Regions from separate parts of the Homo sapiens genome. Here all the other regions are linked to region 1. Evidence: fine-mapped expression QTL. A gene starts in region 1. Each other region holds a variant in brackets. All regions are shown on one strand. Distances are from middle to middle.

Region 1 (5,104 bases):
TTCCCCAGAGGTAATCAGTATTCTGGATTTGGTATTTCTCCTTAAAAATTATTGTTGGCTGGGGGCGGTGGCTCACACCTGGAATCCCAGCACCTTGGGAGGCCAAGATGTGGTTGGATCACTTGAGCTCAGGAACTCAAGATTAGCCTGGGCAACATGGTGAAACCCTGTCTCTACAAAAAATACAAAAATTAGCCAGGTGTGGTGGTACATGCCTGTAGTCCAGGTACTTGGGAGGCTGAGGTGGGAGGATGGCTTGAGTCAGGGAGGTGGAGGCTGCAGGGAGAGGAAATCAAGCCACTGCACTGCAGCCTGGACGACAGAGCAACATCTTGTCTGAAAAAAAAATTATTGTTTATATATCTATATAATCTATAAGCAACATTGTTTGCTGTTTTCTAGATTTTAAAACTTTATATAAATGGTTTCATACTTTATGTGTCCTCTGCAATTTGTATTTTATCTCAGTATTGTGTTTTTGAAATTTAGCTGGGTCAATGCATGCAACATGATTCATTCTTTTTCATTATAGTATTCTGCATAGTATTCTGTCATATGGCTATACCATAATTTACTTATTCATTCTCCTGTTGGTGGAATTTTGGGCTGTTCACATTTTTTTCTCTATTACAAACAGTTCTGCAATGAACATTCTTCCACATGCTCATTGAGCAAGTGTATAAGAATTTCTCTAGGAGTTAAAGTTTAGAGGTGATCTCTATCTATCTATCTACCTATTAATCAATCATCTCCAATACTAGAACTGCTGGGTCCCAGGGTCATCTTCAGCTATTCTGGATACTTCCTAATTGTTTTCCAAAGTCGTAATAACTAGTTTCCACAAGATTTCATTGTATTTTTTCCCTTATATCTTGTGCATTTGGGATTTTGTTTAAAAAGTCCTTCCCCAGTCACAAGTCACAAAGATATTCTCCTGCATATATTAACTTCATAGTTTTACCTTTCACATTCACAGTCTACCCTCTTAGGTGGAATAAATAGAGATCCAGTTTTATATTTCTTTTCATGGAGAGCCAAATTTCCCAATGCCATCTACTAAACAGCCCATTTCCCATTTTTTGTGGTGCAGGCCTGTAAACTCACCCATTTAACAAACAGTTGTTGAAGCCTGCCTCATACCAGTCTTGTGCTGGGTGTTGTTGAAAGCTTGAAGATACATGGCCCCTGCTCTCAGGGAGTTCACCCTCCTGTGGAGACACAGTCACATAAACAACTACAGTATTGTGATAAGTGCTAGCTTAGCTGTATAGGTAAGGTGCTCTGGGTTTCTAACTCATCTGCGAAAGTCAGAGAAGGTTTCATCGAAGTGACAAGAGTTAGGTCTTAGAGAAACAGAGCAAAATTGCAAATGCAGGGGGAAAGGTGAAAGTGGTCAGGGCTGGTTTCAGGTCCAGAGGAATTTCATGTGTCTCTAGGATGAGAGGTTAGAAGCCCTCCAACGATGTAGAGAGGTAGTGAGTCCTGTTTATGTAAGGGATAAAGGGACAGATGGAGTCATTTTCAGCCCGTCTGTGCTTGAAGTGGAGAAACAAACCCACCCTCGGAGGCACAGAGTTCCACCTACTCTGTGCCCCACCCCAGGGTTTAGGCTTGAGGAAGAGGAGGGGCTGGAATTAAACCATCAAGAAGAAAACATTTGCAGACTAATATTTACTATTTTGTGGGGGAGACCTCACTTCCCAGCCAGCTCCTTGAGATGGCTTCAGAAACCCCTACTTGCCCCACTCCAGAGATATAAATTCATTCCCTTCTGCAGACGCTGCTCCGGGATTGAGGGAAGGATGGAGTAGGAGGGGAAGAAGGCAAAAGGGTGGGAGAGGCTTCTAGTGTGGGAGAGGCTTCTAGTCGTTCTGGCTCCTGCTCCAGCTCGGGTTGGGTATGGCCATAGATCTGAACGTATGCAGAAAAAGCTAGGAGTGCTCAGGGATGGTCTGGGGCTCAAGGACCCGGGAAGGTGGTTGGGAATAGCTAACCAATTCACTTCAGGTGGGGAAATACTCGGCCAGACACGTGACCCAGGCGGCCATTTTCTCACACCCTGCTGTCGCCATCTTCCAGGCAGACAAAGACACCATCCCCCACCCTTGTCTGATTCGGGCGTGGTGACTGCCTGGTTATTGAGATTTGGGAGCACGCATATTTAACCCCAGACAGATGCCCGCAGACAAAATTTTGGCTTGCAAGTAAGGTATATGGCCGCACCAGTCGACCCGCCGCTTCTTCCCGGTCATTTCCCCGTCCTCCTTCTCCCTCCTCCGCTATTTCCTTAACTACGGGGCAGGCAGGAGGCGGGGCCAGCGTGGTCGCGAAGAAGGGACGGGCGGGCGTGAGCTGTCAGTCAGAAGCTCCGCCCCCCCCCCCCCCCCCCCGCGGAGACCGCACGGTGGGCGGAGTCGGGCGCCGCCGGCCTGGGATCCGGAAGTCGGAGCCTAGCTGCGCGAGAGTTTCTGCTCGCTCAACCGAGTTGTCGTGTTGCCCTCGCTTCTCAGATCCCCGCCGGAAGTGTAAGTAAGAAACTTCTCTCCTCTTTTCTCACAATGTGCGCTCACCTAGACGGCCGGGCAGTTAGGATCGTCTATTGGATGTGAAACCAGAGATGCCCGCCAACCTGGAATAGAGAGGTAAACAGCAGGATCCCTTCCAGGGTAGAAGGGACCGGAAGAGGGGCAGGGATCGCGGCACACGTGGAGACGCGCCGAATTGCCTTTTCGCGGAGTGGAGTTTGCCGGGAGAGGGGCATTGCCCCATCCCACCTAGAAAGGTGTAGACCCGGGACACACTGTGTAGAGAGGCACAAACTTCACTTGTGTGGTGAAGCGTTGATCGTCCTCAAGATAGTGAGGCTTCATTCTGCATTCACCTTGTATAGACAGGAGTCGACCCACCAAAGGCATGGGGGACATCCACCCCAACCGTGTAGAGACATCTCCCTCCACCCAGCTGAGCAGCGCAGACTTCTCCCGACTTAAGGCACTTCCTTGGCTTGGCTCTAGACAGCCGTCTCGAGGCACCTCCTCAGGACAGACAGAGGCTTTGATGTATCTGCCCCCATACCAGCATAGAGGAGCTTAGAAACATTTAATATACAGAGGGAGGGCACCTCCTCCCCATACGCGTAGACTCAGAGCCCTCAGTATCGCTCCCCAACTCACCCGTCCCCAAAGTGGTTGCAGTTACAGGCCTCAGCTTATGGACAACTAAGCCAATTGCCCCCTCCTCTTAGGTTAGAGTGAGTCCCCATTGTGGAGAATCAGACCTGATCCCTACTTCCGTAGCCCCCGTTTTACCGAATGTGTAATTTTTCGAAGCACCCAACATGCTTCGAAGCAAACAGGAACAGACCTTAATCCATGAAGAGACAGTCAGGTCTGCCCCTTGAGGGGCCGTGGGGGTAGAGGGGCTCAGATGTGTTCCTCTCCCTTTGAGGTAGACACAGATCATCCCCCTACCTCCCCCTACCTCCCCCAAAGATTTAGAATCACTAAATGTAGCAAGGGAGATACCCCACAGGAGCAGATATGCAGGTCTCCCTCCCTGTAATGTTGAGAGGGAGTGACATCGCTGATTACCTGGCAGTTCAGTGCGTATGGTCTCTCCCCTTTACCCAAGGTAGTGGAGCTCAGATCTGTTTCTCTCCACCCAGGGTAGAATCACAGACGCCCCCACCCCCAAGTATTAGGGCTGATCTATTAATTTATAGCTGCATTGCCAGCCCCCTCCACACACCACCCATGCAGAGAACCAGAGCCCCTATTTCTTTCAGTGTTAGTGTGCCGCTGACTTCAACCAGCATAAAAGATGAAAGTTGTCACAGTCCACCTTCCATAGAAGGGTCCAGAATAGCTCACTGCAGGTAAGGTGCAGACCCGCTTATTCAAAGCTGCATAGTTGTGGAATCAGGCATATCGATCCTGTACCACAGCCCTCTCCAGGGTGAAGAGACGCAGGACCCATCCCCACAATCTAGAGATAAACAGATCTGTGATTCTTTCCCCATGCAGCAGAGATGCACACAGCCACTTTGTGGGTTTCCCCAGTTTCTCTGCACCCCAGAGTAGAGGGACAGATGGCAATCCCCCCAACCCAAATCACCAAGGTATAGACCCCAGGCATATGCAGGCACAGATTTTTACCCCCTCCTCCAAGATTTTGTACTTATCTCAATCCATATAGACACTCAGGTAAGAATCCCTGTTCTCAGGCCCCTTTTCCCCAGGGTAGACTCCTGAGATCTATTTACGCCCTTCCCCACCACCTCTCCCAGGGTAGATGAGATATAGAATCCCCTACTTGGGAAAAGAGGCACTATTATCACCCCATATAGAAATAGACCATCCTTGCATGTCCCTTTCCCCTCAGTGTGGAGGTGTTGAGCACTAGTCCCCTACCTAGAATATAACACTACAGTGTGGAGGAATAAGGACCAAAGACCCCATCTGACCCCATTTGACCCCACTGGGCTCAAAGCCCAGTGGCTTTGAGCCACTGACTCCACCCCGGATGAGGTTGAGACCTATTCCTCCCTTTGGGTAGTATGACACTGCCTTCTCTGTGTGGACTCAGCCATATGAGGCTTTAGCTCCAGCTTCTCCCAGTTTTCCTAATTATTACGCCTTCCTCATAATGTTCTTTAACATTTTACCTTTAGGGGACTTAGGAGGGGGCTTGTGGCATTGTGATTCCCAGCTGTCTTCAAATTGCTTCTTCTCCCATTCTGACAGGAAGAGAGCAAGCAGATTTGAACCTATCTGCTTTCAAGCTGGTCATCATGATGAAACTTAGACACAGTGAGTTTCCTTTACCACCCCTCCCAATCCTGTGCTTTTAATGAATATTCATAGAATTTCACAGCAACTTTTTGTTTTTTTGGTTTTTGTTTTGAGATGGAGTCTCGCTCTGTCACCTAGGCTGGAGTGCAGTGGTGCAATCTCAGTTCACTGCAACCTCCGCCTCCCGGTTTCAAGCATTTCCTGCCTCAGCCTACCGAGTAGCTGGGATTATAGGTGTGTGCCACCATGCCAGGCTACTTTTTGTATTTTTAGTAGAGACGGAGTTTCACCATGTTGGCCAGGCTGGTCTCGAA
Region 2 (5,104 bases), 97 kb before region 1:
CTGCAAACTGAGTCTCTTGTACTCAGCTTGGGGAGCTTCTTCAGGGGCCTCTGGGGAAATCATTTTAGGGGTTTGGTCTAGAAACTGTTTGGGCCACCTGCTTTATGGTAGTCTGTCCAGAGGTTCAGGCACTGGTATACCTGAGATCAATCTCATTGTATTAGTCAGTCAGGAGCTCTGTCTGGATCACTCACTGTTGGGTGCTCAGCATGGGCATTCAGACTTTTTGTTTGTTTTGGTTTGTTTTGTTTTGAGATGGAGTCTTGCTCTGTCGCCCAGGCTGGAGTGCAGTGGAATGATCTTGGCTCACTGCAACCCCCGCCTCCCAGGTTCAAGTGATTCTCCTGCCTCAGCCTCTCAAGTAGCTGGGATTATAGGCGCACACTACCACGCCTGGCTAATTTTTTGTATTTTTAGTAGAGACGGGGTTTCACCATGCTGGCCAGGCTGGTCTTGAACTTCTGACCTCAAATGATCCACACGCCTCGGCCTCCCAAGGTGCTGGGATTACAGGCGTGAGCCACCGCACCCAGTGGCATTCACTCTCCTGAGAGAAGTCCGGGAGTTCCGAGTGAGTTCTGAGTGAGCTCAGGCATTGGCTCACTCAAGAGGGCTCAGCTGGCATCAGATGTGATTGCATGTAACAAAGAGACACCAAATAATGATGGCTTAAACAAGATAGAAACCTCTATTTTTCTTTTTTTGACACAGAGTTTCACTCTGTTTTGATCATTGCTCACTGCAGCCTAGACCTCCCGGGCTCAAGCAATCCTCCCACCTCAGCCTCCAGAGTAGCTGGGACTACAAGCATGTGCCATGCCGGTAAATTAGTCATATCTGCTTATTTTTTTAATTTTTTTTTTTTTGGTAGAGACAGGGTCTCCCTGTTGCCCAGGCTGGTCTCAAACTCCTGGGCTCAAGTGATCCTCCCACCTTGGCCTCCCAAAGTGCTGGGATTACAGGTGTGAGCCATCGAATCCGGCTCAAACCTTTTATTTCTCTTATGTAAAAGCAGTCCTGACCGGGCACGGTGGCTCACACCCTGTAATCCCAGCACTTTGGGAGGCCAAGGCAGGGTGCATCACAAGGTCAAGAGATCGAGACCATCCTGGCCAATATGGTGAAACCCTGTCTCTACTAAAAATACAAAAATTTGCCGGGTGAGGTGGCACGTGCCTGTAATCTCAGCTACTTAGTAGGCTGAGGCAGGAGAACCACTTGAATCCGGGAGGTGGAGGTTGCAGTGAGCCCGGATTATGCCACTGCACTCCAGCCTGGCAACAGAGTGAGACTCTGTCTCAAAAAAAAAAAAAAAAAAAAAAAAAGCAGTCCTAAGAAACTGCTCCTTTCTTCCATTAAATTTTTTTTTTTCAGATAGGGTCTCACTCTGTTGCCCAGGCTGGAGTGCAGTGGCAAGATCACGACTCACTGCAGCCTCGAACTCCCTGACTCAAGCACTCCTCCCACCTCAGCCTCCCAAGTGTAGCTGGGACTATAGGAGTGCACACCATACCCAGCTAATTTTTTGATTTTCTATAGACAGGGTCCCACCATGTTGCCCAGGCTGGTTTTGAACTCTTGGGCTCAAGCAATTATCCAGGATTCTTTGAGCCAAATTTGCCAAAGTATCCCTGCTGCACTCAGTTATTGGTAGTTTTTGGCACTCAGCTGATGGCAAGCAATGTCTGCGCAAATACAAGGGTGGATTTCAGAACAGCAGCTGGGGCCCTTGATTAAATTCATCCCCTGTAGCTTACGGTCTGTGAGATGAAGTCTCATGGCTACCATAGGTGCATACCGGTGGTTCCCTCTGGGGATTCCCTCTAGGGCTCATTTTGGGCTTTTTTTTTTTTGAGATGGAGTCTCGCTCTGTCACCCAGGCTGGAGTGCAGTGGCACAATCTCGGCTCACTGCAACCTCTGCCTCCCAGGTTCAAGTGATTCTCCTGCCTCAGCCTCCCGGGTAGCTGGGACTACAGGCAAGTGCCACCACGTTCAGCTAATTTTTTCACTTTTTTTTTTTTTTTTAAGACAGAGTCTCGCTGTGTCGCCCAGGCTGGAGTGCAGTGGCGCGACCTCAACTCACTGCAACCTCTGACTCCCGGGTTCAAGCAATTCTCCTGCCTCAGCCTCCCAAGTAGCTGGGACTACAGGTGCCCACCACCATGCCTGGCTAAATTTTGTATTTTTAGTAGAGATGGGGTTTCACCATGTTGGCCAGGCTGGTCTCGAACTCCTGACCTCAAGTGATCTGCCCGCCTCAGCCTCGCAAAGTGCTCCAATTACAGGCGTGAGCCACCATGCCCGGCCTTGGGCATGTTATTTCCAGGTTCAGATATTAGGTTTTCAGTCTGAGGGAAGCTGTTTCAGAACATGGGCTCAGTCTACACTTTCAGCAGGGGGGATGAGTTTGTGGCTTTAGTATGTGATGGGTCCTTCTGGGAACTCACCCTGGGCCCATTTGCAGGATATCAGTCCCAGTCCCCATACTCCTTCAAGGAGCTAAGTTTGGGGACTCAGTCCCGTGGCTCTACCTAGAGGCTCATTATGGGCATTATGGGGACATGACTTTAAGGTTAAGGGTTTACATGTTGATGGTTCACTCTTTTTTTTTTTTGAGACAGGGATCTGGCTCTGTCACCCATGCTGGAGTGCACTGCTGCCATCTCTGCTCATTGCAACCCCCGCCTCCTGGGCCCAAGCTGATCCTCCAACCTCAGCCTCCAGGGTAGCTTGGAGACCGCAGGCATGTCCCACCAAGTCCTGCTAATTTTTGTATTTTTTTCAGAGACAGGGTTTTGCCATGTTGCCCAGGCTGGTCTCAAACTCCTGGACTCAAGGAATCTGCCCAGATGGTTCACTCTTGAGACACTAATTCTAGTGTTTCAGTTGGGAGAGGATTTGATATGGGAGCCTGATATTTTCTCTGACATATGACTAAGCCTCTCAC[C/T]GAGTGAGTGCCAGTTTCAGAGCTCAGTCTGCTCAGGTATTGGAAGCCCAGTCTGGAGATTTTAGCCTGAGGTCAAGCCTAGGAGATACGGATGTGATGGCCTCACCCAGGGATGTCTGTCTGGTGGGCTCTGTCTTGGGATGCCAGGCTTGGTCCTAATCTGAAATTTTCTTTTCTTTCTTTTTTTTTTTTTTTTTTTTTTGAGACAGTCTCACTCTGTTGCCCAAGCTGGAGTGCAGTGGCGTGATCTCGGCTTACTGCAACCTCCACCTCCCGGGTTCAAGCAATTCTCCTGCCTCAGCCTCCCGAGTAGCTGGAACTACAGGCACGTGCCACCACGCCCGGCTAATTTTTGTATTTTTAGTAGAGACAGGGTTTCACTATGTTGGCCAGGCTGGTCTTGAACTCCTGACCCTGTGATTTACCCACTTTGGCCTCCCAAAGTGTTGGGATTACAGGCGTGAGCCACCGTGCCCGGCTGAAATTTTCTATCTGGAAGCATCCTCTGCACATTCAATGTGGTGGTTCAACCTGCATTTTAATCTTGGAGCTCAGTCTAGGGTGTCATACTGGGAGTTGAGTTTGGGATACATGGACTTATAAAGCATCATGCATAGAATTTTGGGGTGTCTGTGTCTTTCTTCCCTCCCGCCCTCCCTTCCTTCCTTTTTTTTTTAATTTTTATGGATTCTCACTCTGTTGCCCAAGCTGGAGTGCAGTGGTGCCATGTCGGTTCACTGCAACCTCTGCCTCCGGTTCAAGAAATTCCCTTGCTTCAGCCTCCTGAGTAGAGTAGCTGGGACTACAGGTGTGCACCATCATGCCCAGCTAATTTATGTATTTTTAGTAGAGACGGGGTTTCAGCATGTTAGTCAGGCTGGTCTCGCACTCCTGACCTCAGGTGATTGCCCGCCTTGGCCTCCCAAAGTGCTGGGATTACAGGCGTGAGCCACTGCACCTGGCCTGATTGCAATTTTAAAATTGGCAAACAAATACACAATTTGGAATGGTGTTTCTGTAATATTTTGATAACTGTATTTTAACATACTTGACTTCCTTTGTAAACCTATATTTTATTGTATGCATTTAAAAACATTATTCTGGGCTAGGCTCATGCCTGTATTCCCAGCACTTTCGGAGGCTGAGGGAAGATTACTTGAGCCCGGGAGTTTGAGACCAGCCTGAGCAACATAGTGAGAACCTGGTCTCTGCAAAATAAGTTTTTTTGTTTTTTTTGAGATGGAATCTGGCTCTGTCGCCCAGGCTGGAGTGCAGTGGCACGATCTCGGCTCACTGAAACCTCCACCTCCTGAGTTCAAGCGATTATCCTGCCTCAGAAATTTTAAAATAAAATAAAAACATTCTGTGAAGAGCTATATTGACTTTACCAGATTGCCGATGGGGGTTCAAGTCACAAAAAAGGTGAAGACGTTTGGTACTTAGGATACTCGGCCTTGGACTTCAGTCTCAAAGCTAAGGGTTCATTCAGAGGCCTTGGTTTGTTACATCCCAGAGAGGGACTCCATGTGTGGGGATATCTAGCAGGTCTATTCTCTCTGTGTATGTTTGAGGCCTCAGATTGTGGGAACTTCAACTGAGGTTTTCAATATCTTCATTTGGGCCTCTCTGAACTCAATCTACATTGCTGACTCTACAAAAAATGAGTCTCTGGAGCTACGGAGGAGGCTATGCCCCTGAGGTTCTCTCTCAGTCTGGAACTGCTCTTATTATCATCACACACCATGTTGCTTCCTGCCTCTGTGTATTTGCACACATTTTTCCCCTGCACAGAAGGCTCTTTCCTCCTTTCAGTAACACCTTCCACCCCCATACACACACACTCCCCCATCACCCAGCAAAATTCTACTCAAACTTTAAGAATCAGCTCACGTGTCATCTCCTCCGAGAGGCCTGCCACAGCCCCCAGGGCTGGGTCAGGGACCCTCTGCTGAACTCCCATGAGTCCCTGTGCTCCTTTCTCCCTGGGCATTGCACAGAGATAGATTTATCGTAGAACAAATCAATCTTAAGCATCAGGGCCCCACACTTGCACAGGCCACTTCCAGGTCTCTGGTTATTGAGCCTGGTCTATTTGAAGAATGTTTAAGATTTGTCGCTGTGCCAAGAGAAGTTAAAATAACCTGAAATCTTACAG
Region 3 (5,104 bases), 60 kb after region 1:
TTTTTTCTTTTTAGACGGAGTCTCACCCTGTCACCCAGGCTGGAGTGCAGTGGCACGATCTCAGCTCACTGCAACCTCTGCCTCTCGGGTTCAAGCGATTCTCCTGCCTCACCCTCCCGAGTAGCTGGGATTATAGGCACCTACCATCATGTCCAGTTAATTTTTGTATTTTTAGCAGAGATGGGGTTTCACCATGTTGGCCAGGCTGGTCTCGAACTCCTGACCTCAGGTGATCCTTCTGCCTCAGCCTCCCAAAGTGCTAGATTACAGGCGTGAGCCACTGTGCCTGGCCAGGGTTGTACTTTTAATTTCCGTTTCCACATGGTCGTTGCTTTTATATAGAAATATAATTGAGTTCTGTATGTTTATCTTGTAATCTGTGATTTTGCTAAACTCACTAATGTGTACTAGGAGATATTTTGGTAGCTATTTTGGGATTTTCTATGTAGATTATCATGTCCTCTGCAAATTTGGACAGCTTTATGTCTTCCTTTTCAATCTGTATGTCTCTTATTTCTTTTTCTTGCCTATTGCACAGCTAGAACTTCCAGTACAATGTTGAATAGAAGTGGTATGAGAAGACATCTTTGCTTTGTTCCATATCTTAGGGAAAAGCATTCAGTCTTTTACCATTTTTTGTAATGTTAGTTGTATGTTCGTTTTTAGATGCTCTTTGTGAAATTAAGAAAATATCCATCTATTACTATTTTTTCTGAGAGCTTAAAAATTCTCATTCATAGGTATTCAATTTTATCAAGTGCTTTTCTGCATCACTTGATATGATTATATGGTTTTTCTTTCACTTTAGTCTGTTGACATGGTAGATTCCACTGATGGATTACAAATATGGAACCAGGCCGGGTGTGGTGGCTCACGCCTGTAATCTCAGCACTTTGGGAGGCTGAGGCGGGTGGATCACTTGAGGTCAGGAGTTCGAGACCAGCCTGGCCAATGTGGTGAAACCCTGTCTCTACTAAAAATACAAAAACTAGCCAGGCGTGGTGGCACACGCCTATAATCCTAGCTACTTAGGAGGCTGAGGCAGGAGAATCATTTGAACCCGGAAGGTGGAGGTTGCGGCGAGCCAAGATCGCGCTACGGCTCAAAAAAAATAAAAAATAAAAAAAAGTGGAACCAGCCATATCGGCAATGCTTTAACTTTATTCCTCAAATTTTATTATGCTTTATTTTATTTTTTATTCAATTCAATTTTTTTGATATCCTTTTGAAATACTTCCTCTTTGACCCATGTATCATTTTCAAAATGGGTTGTTTAGTTTCCAAGTGTTTGAAGATATTCTTGTTATTTTTTGATACTGATTTTTTCTTTTTTTAATTTAAAAAATTTTTGTGCGTACATAGGTATATATGTTTATGGAATACATGAGATGTTTTGATACAGGCATGCAATGTGAAATGAACACATCATGGAGAATGAGGTATTCATCCCCTCAAACATTTATCCTTTGAGTTACAAACAATCCAATTACACTCTTTAAAATGTACAATTAAGTTATTATTGACTATAGTCACCCTATAAATAGACGGAAAAATAGTCTATTATTGACTATATTCACCCTATAAATAGTTAGATGGAAAAAATAGTCTAACTATCATTGACTATAGTCACCCTATAAACAGATGGAAAAATAGTCTTATTTTTTTTTGTCCCATTAACCATCCCTACTTCCCCTCCCAATCCCCCATTACCCTTCCCGGCCTCTGGTAACCATCCTACTCTCTATGTCGATGAGTTCAATTGTTTTGATATTTAGATCCTGCATATAAGTGAGAACATGTGATGTTTATGTTTTTGTGCCTGGCTTATTACACTTAACATAATGATCTCTAGTTCCAGCCATGTTGTTGCAAATGACTGGATCTCATTCTTTTTATGACTGAATAGTACTCCATTTTGTATGTGTACCACATTTTCTTTATCCATTCATCTGTATAGATACTTAGGTTGCTTCCAAGTCTTAGCTATTGTACACAGTGCTCCAACAAACATAGGAGTGCAGATATCTCTTCCTTATACTGATTTCCTTTCTTTTGTGTACATACCCAGCAGTAGGATTGCTGGATCATATGTTGGCTCTATTTTTAGTTTTTTGA[G/A]GAACTTCCAAAGTGTTCTCCATAGTGGTTGTACTAATTTACATTCCCATCAACAGTGTGCAAGGGTTCCCTTTTCTCCACATCTTTGCCAGCATTTGTTATTGCCTGTCTTTTGGTTACAAGCCATTTTTTTTTTTTATTAATTATTATTTTTTGAGACAGAGTCTTGCTCTGTCGCCCAGGCTGGAGTGTAGTGGTGTGACCTCGGCTCACTGCAACCTCTGCCTCCCAGGTTCAAGCGATTCTCCTGCCTCAGCCTCCCGAGTAGCTGGGATTACAGGCACGTGCCACCATGCCCAGCTAATTTTTGTATTTTTAGTAGAGACGGAGTTTCACCAGGTTGGTCAGGCTGGTCTTGAACTCCTGACTTTGTGATCCGCCCGCCTCGGCCTCCCAAAGTGCTGGGATTATAGGCGTGAGCCACCGCGCCTAGCCCACAAGCCATTTTAAATAGGGTGAGATGATATCTCATTGTAGTTTTGATTTGTATTTCTCTGATGATGAATGATGTTGAGCATCTTTTCATATACTTGTTTGCCATGTATATGTCTTCTTTTGAGAAATGTCTATTCAAATATTTTGCCCAATTTTGATCAAATTTTTAGTTTTTTTCCTGCATCAATTGATATGATTATATGATTTTTCTTGTTTAGTCTGTTGACGTGGTGGGTTCCATTGATGAAAGAGTTGTTTGAACTCTTTATATATTGTGATTATTTAATCTCTTGTCAGATGGGTAATTTACAAATAATTTTCTCCCATTCTGTGAATTGTCTCTTCACTTTGTTGATCATTTCCCTTGCTGTACAGAAGCTTTTTAACTTGATGTGATCCTATTTTTGCTTTGGTTGCCTGTACTTATTGGGTATTATTCAAGAAAATTTTTACCAGACCAATGTGCTTGAGATTTTCCCCAGTGTTTTATTGTAGTAGTTTCATAGTTTGAGGTCTTAGATTTATGTATTTATTTATTTATTTATTTAGGTCTTAGATTTATTTATTTATTTATTTATTTATTCATTCATTCATTCATTCATTCAGTCAGTCAGTCAGAGCCTTGCTCTGTCGCCCAGGCTGGAGTGCAGTGGCACGATTTCGGCTCGCTGCAACCTCTGCCTTCTGGGTTCAAGCGATTCTCCTGCCTCAGCCTCCTGAGTAACTGGGACTACAGATGCACACCACCACAGCTGGCAGATTTTTGTATTTTTAGTAGAGATGGGGTTTTGCCATGTTAGCCAGGCTGGTCTTGAACTCCTGACCTCAGGTAATCCACCTGCCTCTGCCCCACAAAGTGCTGGAATTACAGGCGTGAGCCACCGTCCCCAGCCTGAGGTCTTAGATTTAGAATTTAATGCATTTTGATTTGTTTTTTGTATATGGTGAGAGATTGGGGCCCAGTTTCATTCTTCTTCATATGGATATCCAGTTTTCCCAGCACCATTTATTGAAGAGACTGTCTTCCCCCCAGTGTATGTTTTTGGCACCTTTGTAAAAAATGAGTTCACTTAGGCGGGGCGCAGTGGCTCGCTCCTGTAATCCCAGTGCTTTGGGAGCCCAAGGCTGGCAGATCACTTGAGGTCAGGGGTTCGAGACCAGCTTGGCCAACATGACAAAACCCCATCTCTACTAAAAATACAAAAATTAGCTGGGTGTGGTGGCAGGCGCCTGTAGTCCTAGCTACTCAGGAGGCTAAGGCAGGAGAATCGCTTGGACCCGGGAGGTGGAGGTTGCAGTGAGCCCAGATCACACCACTGCACTCCAGCCTGGGTGACAGAGCGAGACTTTGTCTCAAAAAAAAAAAAAAAAAATTGAGTTCACTGTAGGTGTGTAGATTTGTTTCTGAGTTCTCTACTCTGTTCCTTTGGTCTATGTGTGTGTTTTTATGCTAGTACCATGCTGTTTTGGTTACTAAAGCTCTGTAGTATAATTTGAAGTCAGGTAATGGGATTCCTTCAATTTTGTGTTTATTTTGCTAAGGATAACATTGGCTATTCTGTGTCTTCTGTGGTTCCATATAAATTTAAGGATTTTTTTTTCTATTTCTGTGAAGAATGTCATTGGTATTCTGATAGAGATTGCATTGAATCTGTAGATTGCTTAGGGTTATATGGACATTTTAATAAAACTGAATCTTCCAATTCATGAACATGGAATATTTTTCAATTTTTGGTGTCCTCTTCAATTTCTTTTAACAGTGTTTTATAGTTTCCATTATAGATATCTTTCACTTCTTTGGTTAATTCCTAGGTATTTAATTTTATTTGTGGCTATTGTAGATGGGATTACTTTTTTTCATTTCTTTTTCACATTGTTCACTGTTGTCATATAGAAATGCTACTGATTTTTGTATGTTGATTTCGAAACCTGCTACTTTTCTGAATTTACCAGTTCTAATAGAGTTTTCTTGTGGAGTCTTTAGGTTTTTCCAACTATAAAACCATATCTCCTACAATGAAGAATAATTTGATGTCTTCCTTTCCAATTACAATGCCCTTTATTTCTTTCTCTTGTTTGATTGCCCTAGCTAAGACTTCCAGTATTATGTTGAATAACAGTGATGCAAGTGGGTATGCTTGCTGTGTTCCAGATCTCGCAGGAAAGGCTTTCAGTTTTTCCCCATTCAGTATGATACTAGCTGTGGGTCTTTTGTATATGGCTTTTATTATGTTGAGGTATGTTCCTTCTATACCCAATTTTGTAGAGTTTTTATCATGAAAAGATGTTGAATTTTGCCTGGGCGCAGTGGCTCATGCCTGTAATCCTAGCACTTTGGGAGGCTGAGGCAGGTGGATCGCTTGAGCCCAGAAGTTGGAAACCAGCCTGGGCCACATGGCAAAACCCTGTCTCTACAAAAAGTACAAAAATTAGCCAGGCATGTGGCAGGTGCCTGTAGTCCCAACTACTTGGGAGGTTCAGGTGGGAGGATCACCTGAGCCCAGGAGGTTGAGGCTGTGATGATTCGTGATCATGCCACACCACTCCAGGCTGG
Region 4 (5,104 bases), 66 kb before region 1:
ACTTGGGCTGGGGAGAACACAATCTGGAATCTCTGTCTGGAGCTCAGTCTGGGCTGCTGAATTTCAGGGTTCCCTCTGGGGAACTCAGAGAATCCAGTCTTGGGGCTCAGTGGGGCTTCAGTCTGTAGGATGGACCTGGAGAGTCAGTCTTTTAAGTTCAGGCTGAAAGTTTCAGTCTGAGGGATATGAAATAGGAGAATTAATCTAGGGTGCTCAGTTTGGCAATACTTGTCTATAGAATGGTGGCCAAGGAGATCAGACTGGGAAGCTCTTTTGGGGACCTCAAGCTGAAGGCTCTCACTGGGAACCCACTCTCAGGGCTCAGTGTGGGAAGAGTATTCCAGGTGGGAAGAGGCCCAGTCTGGGGATCTTAGTTTGAGAAACCAGTGTTGGGATCTATAACTGGGACCTCAGAATGGGCTTAGTATGAAGGTTCAGTTTGGAGATGTCAGTCCATAGGGCCCATCCCAGACAATCAGTCTGGAAGGCCCTTTCTAGAAGTTTAGGCTGGCACCTCAGTGAGGGCTCTTTTTCAGCAGGAGGAATGAGGTACTTACTTATGCTGCAGATGTCTGCTTGTAGAGCTTAGCTATTAAACTTTCTAGAGGCCTAGTTCTTTCTAGGGGTCCAGGCTTGGTAGCAAAGTGCCCCATCTGGCAGGGTGGAGAAGGCTCAGTTTGGGAAGCGGACACAGCAGTGGACACAGCTGTCCACTTCCCATTCTTTTTTTTTTTTTTTTTTTTTGAGATGGAGTCTCACTCCGTGGCTCAGGTTGGAGTGCAGTGGCACGATCTTGGCTCACTGCAGCCTCTGCCTCCCGGGTTCCAGCGATTCTCCTGCCTCAGCCTCCAGGGTAGCTGGGATTACAGGCACGGCCACCACGCCTGGCTAATTTTTGTATTTTTAGTAGAGATGGGGTTTCATCATCTTGGCCAGGCTGGTCTCAAACTCCAGACCTCAGGTGATCTGCCCGCCTCAGCCTCCCAAATTGCTAGGATTATAGGCGTGAGCCACCACGCCCGGCCTCGAACCCCATTCTTATGGCTTTTAGGACCCCACACTTTCTTGGTTTTCTTCCTACCTTTAGGGCTGCTCCTTCTTTTTTTTTTTTTTTTTGAGATGGGGTCTTGCTCTGTCACCCAGGCTGGAGTGCAGTGGCGCCACCTCGGCTCACTGCAACTTCTGCCTCCCGGGTTCAAGTGGTTCTACTGCCTCAGCCTCCTGACTAGCTGGAATTACAGGCGTGCACCATCATACCTGGCTAATTTTTGTATTTTCAGTACAGACAGGGTTTCACCATGTTGGCCAGGCTGGTCTCGAACTCCTGACTTTGTGATCCACCTGCCTCAGCCTCCAAAAGTGCTGGGATTACAGGTGTGAGTCACCGCGCCCAGCCTAGGGCTGCTCCTTCTAAGTCTCCTTTGGTGATTCCACATCCCTGAGCTTTGTCCTTGGCCCCCTTTCCCCTCCTTTTACACTCACTCCCTTTGGTGATCTTGGCCAGCCTTATGGCTTTGGAATACTATCTATGTGCCAATGACATCCAAATCTCTCCCTGAAATTCTAGATTCATCTAACTGCCTGACTAGCAGCTCACTTTGAACATGTCCAAAGTCAGACTCCTAAGATCATCTCAGGAACCATCACCACCAGCCAAAAACCTTTAAGTCATTCCTGACTCTTGCTCCCAAGCCCAGCATCCACTCCACCCTAGTCCTCTCAGTGCTGCTTCTGAAAAGAATGTATCCTGAATCCAACCATTTCTCACCGATTCTACTGCTACTGTCCTCATCCAAGCCAACTTTTCTCACTTGGATTATTGCAAAAGGCTTCTAACTGATCTCTCAGCTCTCTCTCTCTTGCTCCCCAAGTAATCATGATCGAAACCTTCCCATGGCTACCCACCATACTCAGAATAAAATCCATCTCCTTATCTTGGCCTTCAGTCTTTGCTCCTCTCTCCAACCTCATTTCTACCATTCTACTCTTATTTGTCATGTTCAGGTCACACTGACCTTCTTCCTGATCCAGAGATATGCAACCTGTCCAGCACCCCACCTCCCCTAATATCTCCCCTTGCCTTGGACCCTATACTTGCTGTGGCCTCTGCCTGGAACATGCTCAACCCCAACAGGCATGTGCCTACCTTCTTTTTATTCAGGTTTTGACTCACTGTCTTCTAGTCAGACAGGCCACCCAATCTCAAGTAGGCTCTCCAGCCACTGTCATGCCACCCTCTTCTAATTCTCTGAATTATACTCAGCACCTATCTAATATTCTACTGTGTATTTATTTACTTATTTATTTATTCTTGAGATGGAGTCTCGCTCTGTCACCCAGGCTGGAGTGCAGTGGCTCAATCACAGCTCAATGCAACCT[C/G]TGCCTCCCGAGTTCGAGTGATTCTCCTGCCCTGGCATCCCGAGTAGCTGGAATTACAGGCACCCACCACCACGCCCAGCTCTTTTTTTTTTTTTTTTTTTTTTTGAGAAGGAGTCTCGCTCTGTTGCCCAGGCTGAAGTGTAGTGATGCAATCTTGGCTCACTGCAAACCTCCACCTCCTGGGTTCAAGCAATTCTCCTGCCTCAGCCTCCCAAGTAGCTGGGATTACAGGTGCCCGCCACCACGCCCAGCTAATGTTTGTATTTTTAGTAGAGACGGGGTTTCACCATGTTGGCCAGGCTAGTCTCAAACTCCTGACCTCAGGCGATCCCCCGGCCTGGCCTCCCAAAGTGCTGGGATTACAGGCGTGAGCCACTGCGCCCGGCCTCTACTGTGTGTTTATTATTTTTGTTTACTGTGTCTCATTGCTGACTAGAATATATGCTCCCTGAGATCAAGGACCTTGTCTGTTTTGTTCACCTCTATATCCCCAGTACCTAGAACAATGCACAAAAACATGGAGGTGCTCAGTAAGTAGCTGTTAAACTAATGAATGAATGAATGAATGAAAATCTGGGGAAGAGAAAGTGGGGTAGGCGGGGGGAGCTCTATCTGGGGTGTGGGGTTCAGGTTGATACTGGAGGAATCGGGATAGAAGACTTTTCTAGTGGTTCAATGTGTAAGGATTCAGTCTGGGGAGGAGGTATCTCAGCCTAGAGATCCAAATTTGAGAGGTGGAAAATTTGGGGTCCAGTCTAGGGTGCTCAATTTGGAGGTTCTTTTGGGAGGTTCATTCTGGGTAGTGGCTGGCGGACATGGAGGAAAGCTCTAAATCTGGAGGATGGAAAATTGATGAGCCAGGGCTCTTTCTGGGGAGCTCAGCTGTGGAGATTCTGTGATGTGGGCTTGGCCTGAGGGGTCAGTCTGGCCTCTCAGCTTGGTGGCTCAGTCCCTGAGGTTTCAGGCTCAGTTTCCTTTCTCATTTGGTACAACTTCATTTGGGGGTGAGTCTAGGGGTCAGCCTTGGGGTCTCGATCTAGGAAATGGATGAGTTCCTTTAGGGGATCATAATGGGCATGCCACTCAAACTCTGGGGTTCCAGTTGGGAAGTTCAGGTTGGGGATCTCCTTCTGAATGTTCTCTACAGGTATTCAGGCAGGGGTCTCAACTTAGAGGTCCCTGCCTGAATACCCAAAGAGAACATTCAGAAGGAGGATCTCATCCTGGGGTCTCACTTCAGAACCTCAATGTGGGCCTTTCAGTTTGGAGATTCTCCTCTGGGATTTCAATCATGTGGCAATGGAAGGCCGACCCTGTGAATTAAGTCTTGGGGTCCTGCCTCAGAGGTCTGGCCTAGAGCTATTAGTGTGGAGAAGTAGGAAGGGGCCTGGGTGCACACACTCACTTTGGGCATCCTTGCTGTCCGGGGAGCCATGGGGCAGCTTTAACAGATAGTCCTTGAGAAGAAGCTCATAGCGGGGGATGCGCTGCACAGGCTCCAGCATGTGGTGCTGCAATGTCAGGTTGCCACAGGCTTCCTCCTTCTGTGACAGGCAGAAGCAGAGGGGCTCAGATCTGGCTGCAGATGCCCCACCACATCCCTGCAGACCTCTCCTCCCCAAGTCTGCTCCTTCCAGCTTGACCACTTACCTGCACCTCATGGATGATGACTTTAAACTGGGTGGAGCGCTCTGTCCAGGTGTTGACCAGCTCCACGGCCCGGTCAAAGTTCTTCACATACTCACCATACATCTTGAGGAAGGGGGCCAGTTTCTGCAGGATGTCTCCAATGCGTGGATAGCGGTCCCTGGGGTGGAATTAGGGGCTGATGTGGTCCTGCTGCTCTTTGCCCCTCAGAAACTTCCCCCACAAGTTTCCAGCCCCAGGCAGATACCTTTCATCTCAGTCCTAGAAACCTACTTCTCAGCTAGTCTGCTCCTTCAGAAATGCTGCTTACATTACAGGCCAGTGAGGCCAAGAGGCTCGGCTTGACTTCAGACCACAGCCTGGGATGCCACCTGCCTCAATTCTGCCCTGCCCGAGTACTGGTTGAAGTACTCACCCTGAGACCTTACTGCCAGGACCACTTCATATACTGATTATCAACTGTGTGCTGGGTGATGCTGGGGACACAGAAATGAGTCACACCCATTTGAGCCCTGAGAGGGTCACCATCTGGTAGGTGAGACAAAGAGACCAGGCCTGGTTGTACTCCTCATTGGTCAGTCTGGTGCAGGAGCAAAGCAAACCAGACCTGGTCCCAGCCCTCAGGGTTCACAGACTCGTGGGGAGATATAGGAACCAGGCTTCATGCTGGCTTTCTGTGGTCACAGTCTGGTGAGGGGGACACACTTGACTCTGTAGGTGTGGAGAATCTGTAGGTATGGGGAATGTGGACATGATTTTAAGCAGGGAGAGACATGGTCTGACTTGTTTAGAGAGACCGTTCTGGCAAATGGTGTGGACTCTAAAGGCTGGATTGGAAGAAGGCCTGAGAGGCTGCCTGTAAACCTTGCCCTTCTACCTCAGGACTCAGCTTAGGCATCACCTTCTCCCTGAATCCTTCTGTAATCTCCAAGCTAGGCTTGGTCCATTTGTCTGGATTCCCACAGCCTCCCATTCTCTGCTCTATCATAGCACTGTAAAAATAACAAAAGCTTACATCCATTGAGCACTTACTGTATATATCTGGTACTGTTTTGTTTGTTTGTTTTTTTTTTTTTTG
Region 5 (5,104 bases), 87 kb after region 1:
AGCCTGTGAGGGGACGCAGCCAGCTCCCCGGGCCTTTCTGCTGCTTCCTCTACCCCTATATTTCGCTCGGCTCTCTAAATTGACTCAACTCCAGGTAAAGTCAGAAACTTGTCCTGCAAACAGAACTTCAGCTTCTCCAATGGGAGTGTGTGTTCAGGAGAGGAGGGTCTCCCTTTCCCATTTCCGCTGTTCGGGCGCTCACAGTATTTGGGGCGTCTCCTGGGTCCTGCAGGTGCAGTCTGCTTCCTTCAGAGGGTCTTTGGGTCCTCTTGGGATTGCTTGGGATTCTTGCAGTTGATCTGGAGCTGAAATTTACAACGTGAGCTTCCACCAACTGCTCTGTCCAGAGCTGCAATCTAATCTTGCCCTCCGTCCGCCATGATTGCCAAACACCTGAAACTAGTTTAAAGTGTCCTCTTCAGTGGCATTACTGTGCGACTACTCCATCTATCTAGTTTCACAACATTCTCATCACCCCAAAAGAAAACCCTATTACCATCAAGAAATCAATTCCCATTTCTCACTTCCACAGCATCTGGAAACTACCAATCTACATTCTTTTTCTATGCATTTATCTGTTCTGAATACCTCATATTAAATAGAATCATTAAATATGTGACCTTTTGTGTTTAGCTTCTTTCACTTAGCATAATGATTTTGTGGCTCATCCATGTTGTAGCATGTATCAGTTTTTCATTCCTTTTCATGGCTGAATAATATTTCATTGTAAGTAAATACCACAATTTGTTTCTCCATTCATATGTTGATGGACATTTGGGCTCTTTCCACCTTTTAGCTATTGTGAATAGTGTTGCTATGAACATACAGGTACATGTATTTGCGTACTAGTTTTCATTTCTTTTGGGTAAATACCTAGGAGTGGAATTGCTGGGTCATATGGCAACTCCATGTTTAACTTTTAGAGTAACTGTCAAACTGTTTTTCACAGCACCTTATATGTATACTTTACAATAAAAAATTTTTAAAAACCCAATAAAAGGCTGGAGATGTTAATGGAGTTAACTGGAGACGAAGTCTTCCCCTTTATCTCTACTAAGTATTTCCACCTCTGCTTTTCATCTAGTCTGTGCATTTTCTTTACCTTCGAAAACAGATGAAGGGAATTTTCCCAGAAGCCAGTACTTGCTTTTTTTTTTTTTTCCCTAAGACAGAGTCTCACTCTGTTGCCCAGGCTGGAGTGCTGTGGCGTGATCTCAGCTCACTGCAATCTCTGCCTCCCGGGTTCAAGCGATTCTCCTGCCTCAGCCTCCCGAGTAGCTGGGATTACAGGCGCCCACCACCACTCCCAGAAGCCAGTACTTCTGAATCCCAGGAGAAGCCTGTGTCAACAGCTTTTCTGAAACCTGGGAAATGTAACTGAAAAAGTAAAATATTTCCAGTAAGCATTTGTTATGTGCCAGGCAGTCTGTTAGCTGTTTCACGGATGTCATCACTTTGAAACTAATCAACTCTCCTGTGATTTTAATATTATCATGGTTTCAGTTTGTCTCTCTTGTGGTATCTAGCACAGAGCTGGAGGAACTCATTGAATGATATGGCTGGATAGGCAAGAGGTGGTGAATAAGAGGTTCAGTGTTCTCTGGGCACAGTGAGAAGGCCTGGCAAGGGCAGTGCCCGCCATATGGGCGCCACAAGCAGGCTACAGAAAGGGTTCTTCTTCAAACTGATATTCTTTAAATATTTGTTCAGCATTTATTTGGCAGGAGAAAGGAAAAACCAATTTTTTTTTAATAAAAATTGCATACCTTTCTGGATGTTCAAAATAAGGAACATATTATATGCACCAAACTTAGCATAATATTTTAACTTATTTGGAATTGCCTTTCATTTCATGGTTTTTCCATTTCTTGTAATTGGAGTGTGTTAGTCACTCACACTCACTAAGGGGAAAAGTAACTAACTGCCCATGGATAGAGACAGGAAGTCTTGTTTAAATATATTTGAAAAGTCTTTTGGCAAAATTATTTCTACTTTTAAGTAGTTTTTGTTCCCGTTTTAGTTTTTTCCCCCCCTGAACCTAACAACTCCTTAACAGGCACATTAAAATATTTTTATTTTGATAATAAACTGGATGACTTGTTGTAGACAGCCTTACACTGTGCATTTTTCAGTTTTAGGCTTTGAGAGTAAGGCTACTGCTGACCCTGGCTCCTTCTCCCCAAGTCAACTGGATAGTGTTAGCCTCAGGGCCTGGGGGGTATGAATGTGCACAATTGCAAAAATATTCCATAAATAGTATGAGCTTGTAAGGGGTTTGTTACTATTGTGTTTATTTCCATGTCAGTTAACTTTGGTAGAGAGGATGGGACCAATTTTTGCTTCACCAGTTAGTTGAGAAGTTTCTTATAGAAATCTGAGTTAATTAGCATAGATTTAATCCCATGATATTGTTTCCTTTTGTGTAGTGGGAAGCAACTGGCTAACTGGTCCACTACTTAAACTGGCTTGTTATTTGTGTGGGAAAAGGAAAAGGTCATTCTTAACCAAGAAGGAGGCTGTTCTTTAGATTTCAAGTCCATGTGCCAAGAATCTGGGGAAAGAGAAAACTTCTGTGCTTGTGCCTGGATCCCATCCTCTTCTGTTTCTTTAGCTACTTCACCAATTATCCCTTTCTTTTCAGAAGTTTCAACTTACCTTCTATTAGCATTGGAGGATGTTCA[A/G]TATTTTTCCATTGGAAAAAGGAAACCCACATCCCTTTGGCTACTTCCCCATAAGCCTTCTCCTTCACACAAAACAATTTCTTGAATGAGTTGTTCACACTTACGTTTCCTCACCTTTTACCCACTCATCAACCCACTGTGATTTGGCTTTTCCCTCTGCCCTCTACTATAATTGCATCTACCACCATCAACCAACTATCTCTTACTTGTTAAATTCAGTGGCTTTTAGCTGTGTTTTCTCTCTCCTTAATTTGTCACCACATTTATCTCTGTTGACAATTTTCCCCCCGCTAGAAACTTACTCTGGCTTTCAGAAACTTCTCTGGTTGCTGGGGTCTGAATGTGTACTCCCTTCCCGCAAATTCATATGTTGAAACCTAACCTCCAAGGTGATGGAATTAAGAGGTATAGCCTTTGGGAGGTGATTAAATAATGAGGAGACCTCATAAATGGGATTAGTACCTTTATGAAAGAGGCCTGAAGGATCTTGTTTGCCCCTTCCACTGTGTGAGAACACAGCTAGAAATCACCATCTATGGGGAATGAGCCCTCACCAGACACTGAAATTGTCAGCAGTTGGATCTTGGACTTCTACACCTTCGGACCTGTAAGAAATACGTTTCTGTTATTTATAAGCTATCCAGTTTATGGTATTTTGTTGTAGCAGCCCAAACAGACTAAGACACTGATTCTCCCACTATTCCAATGGGTCTCTTTCAGTCTTCTTCATGGGCCTTTCTCAGTCTCTTTTATATATTCTTTTCCTTCCTATTCTCTAAATTTGAGTACTTTAAAAAAATTTAGCTCTCAGTTAAAAAAAATCTCATTTATTCCCCTGGCTTTCCCATGCTGGAGAGGCCACATATAGGAGCTGGCTTCAGTTATCATCTGTATGCTGATGGCTCCTAGATCTTTCCCTTTTGCTCATTCCTCCCTCTTGAGCTCTAGACATTTATATTTGAAGGCCTCCTGATTATCTGCCCCGGCAGTCTTGCAAGTATCTGAAACTCAACATATATTAAACTCTGCTTATCATCTTCATCCCCCTAGTCCTTCTAAACTTGCTCCTCCTCCTGGCTTTCCCAAGTCAGCAAATAGCCCCTCTGTCTGCTCAGTTATCCAAACAGAAACTTGAGCATCAGCCTAGAGTCAGCCCTTTCCTTCGAAGTCTTACGAATTCTCTCTTTTCAACAGATCCATGTTCTAGGTGATGTGGTAATCTTGCCTCTAGTCATTTTCCCTACAGTAAGATTGATCTTCTTGGAGTCTAGTTCTGATCACATGACTTCCATGCTCAAAAATAAGCACTAGATCACAATAGAAAAATGGATAAAGAACACAAATAGACAATTCCCAGAAGAAACACAAATGGACTGGGCTGGGCATGGTGGCTCATACCTGTAATCCCAGTGCTTTGAGAGGCTGAGGCAGGAGGAGTTGGAGCCCAGGAGTTGGAGACCAGGCTGGGCAACATAGTGAGACACCATCTCTGCAAAAAAATTTAAAAAAATTGCCAAACATGGTGACATACACCTATCATCCCAGCTACTTGGGAGGCTGAGTCAGGAGGATCTCTTGAGTCCAGGAGTTCAAGTCCATAGTGAGCTATGATTGTGCCATTGCACTCCAGCCTGGGTGGCAGAGTGAGACCCTGTTTTTAAAAAAAACCCACAAATGGGCAATAAATATCTAAGAAGGGGCTCAATCTCACTTATAATAAAAATTAAAGCACCATGATACCAGTCTTCACTTGCCAGATTTGCTAAAACCTAGGGTTAGTGAGGGGAAATGGACACTCATACACAGATGGTGGGAGTGTAAACTGGCAGAACCTTTTGGAGGCAATTTGGCAGCATGTATCAGAATATTAAGCATGTATACCCTTTGATGCACTTTTAGATTTTATTCTACAGAAATACACAAGTATATATATATACAAAGACATTTATTACATTATTGTTCACAATAAGGAATTGGAAATAATCGAAATATCAACAATGAAATTATTAAATAAGTAATGGTATATACAATATATACATAAAAGATTACTAAGCTGCTTTTAAAAATAATAAAGTATCTGTTTAACACGACATGGAAAGATGATGACAATTTATTAAGCAGAAAGAGAAAGTTTCACAATAGTGTATTAATCTCATTTCTGTAAATAATTATTTTTTGTATATATATAAAAACTTTTGGAAATATAGGTACAAACATTAACTGCGGGAGTAGGAGTTACAGGAGTAGGGAGGATGGGGGCTTATACATTCTGTTTTGCGCAATTTTTTTTTTTAATTTTTAAAGACAAGGTCTCACTGTATTGCTCAGGCTGGTCTTGAACTCCTGGGCTCAAGCAATCCTCTTGCCTCGGCCTTCCAAAATGCTGGGATTACGGATGTGAGCCACTGTGCCCAGCCTGTTTT

What was found.
Region 2: its variant is fine-mapped to the expression of GNL3L in lung (TOPMed, PIP above 0.99). The same link has a PIP of 0.9 or more in blood mononuclear cells.
Region 3: its variant is fine-mapped to the expression of GNL3L in whole blood (TOPMed, PIP above 0.99).
Region 4: its variant is fine-mapped to the expression of GNL3L in whole blood (TOPMed, PIP above 0.99).
Region 5: its variant is fine-mapped to the expression of GNL3L in whole blood (TOPMed, PIP above 0.99).

What each region holds. Positions count from the first base shown.
Region 1 is chrX:54,527,778-54,532,881 of GRCh38, forward strand. It overlaps GNL3L (G protein nucleolar 3 like), which reads left to right and starts at 2,442. Exons shown (of 16, transcript NM_001184819.2): 1 at 2,442-2,642; 2 at 4,743-4,808. The coding sequence starts at 4,790. RefSeq lists enhancers at 1,843-2,363, 2,018-2,067, 2,518-2,577, 2,588-2,847.
Region 2 is chrX:54,430,725-54,435,828 of GRCh38, forward strand. No RefSeq gene overlaps it. Among named protein-coding and RNA genes, the nearest start is that of TSR2, 7.1 kb to the right of the region's middle. The variant C/T (reference allele first, on the strand shown) is at 2,950.
Region 3 is chrX:54,587,688-54,592,791 of GRCh38, forward strand. It overlaps a transcript of GNL3L not described here. Among named protein-coding and RNA genes, the nearest start is that of GNL3L, 60 kb to the left of the region's middle. The variant G/A (reference allele first, on the strand shown) is at 2,116.
Region 4 is chrX:54,461,667-54,466,770 of GRCh38, forward strand. It overlaps FGD1 (FYVE, RhoGEF and PH domain containing 1), which reads right to left. Exons shown (of 18, transcript NM_004463.3): 7 at 4,030-4,186; 8 at 3,785-3,923. Among named protein-coding and RNA genes, the nearest start is that of TSR2, 24 kb to the left of the region's middle. The variant C/G (reference allele first, on the strand shown) is at 2,380.
Region 5 is chrX:54,614,558-54,619,661 of GRCh38, forward strand. It overlaps a transcript of GNL3L not described here. Among named protein-coding and RNA genes, the nearest start is that of GNL3L, 87 kb to the left of the region's middle. The variant A/G (reference allele first, on the strand shown) is at 2,682.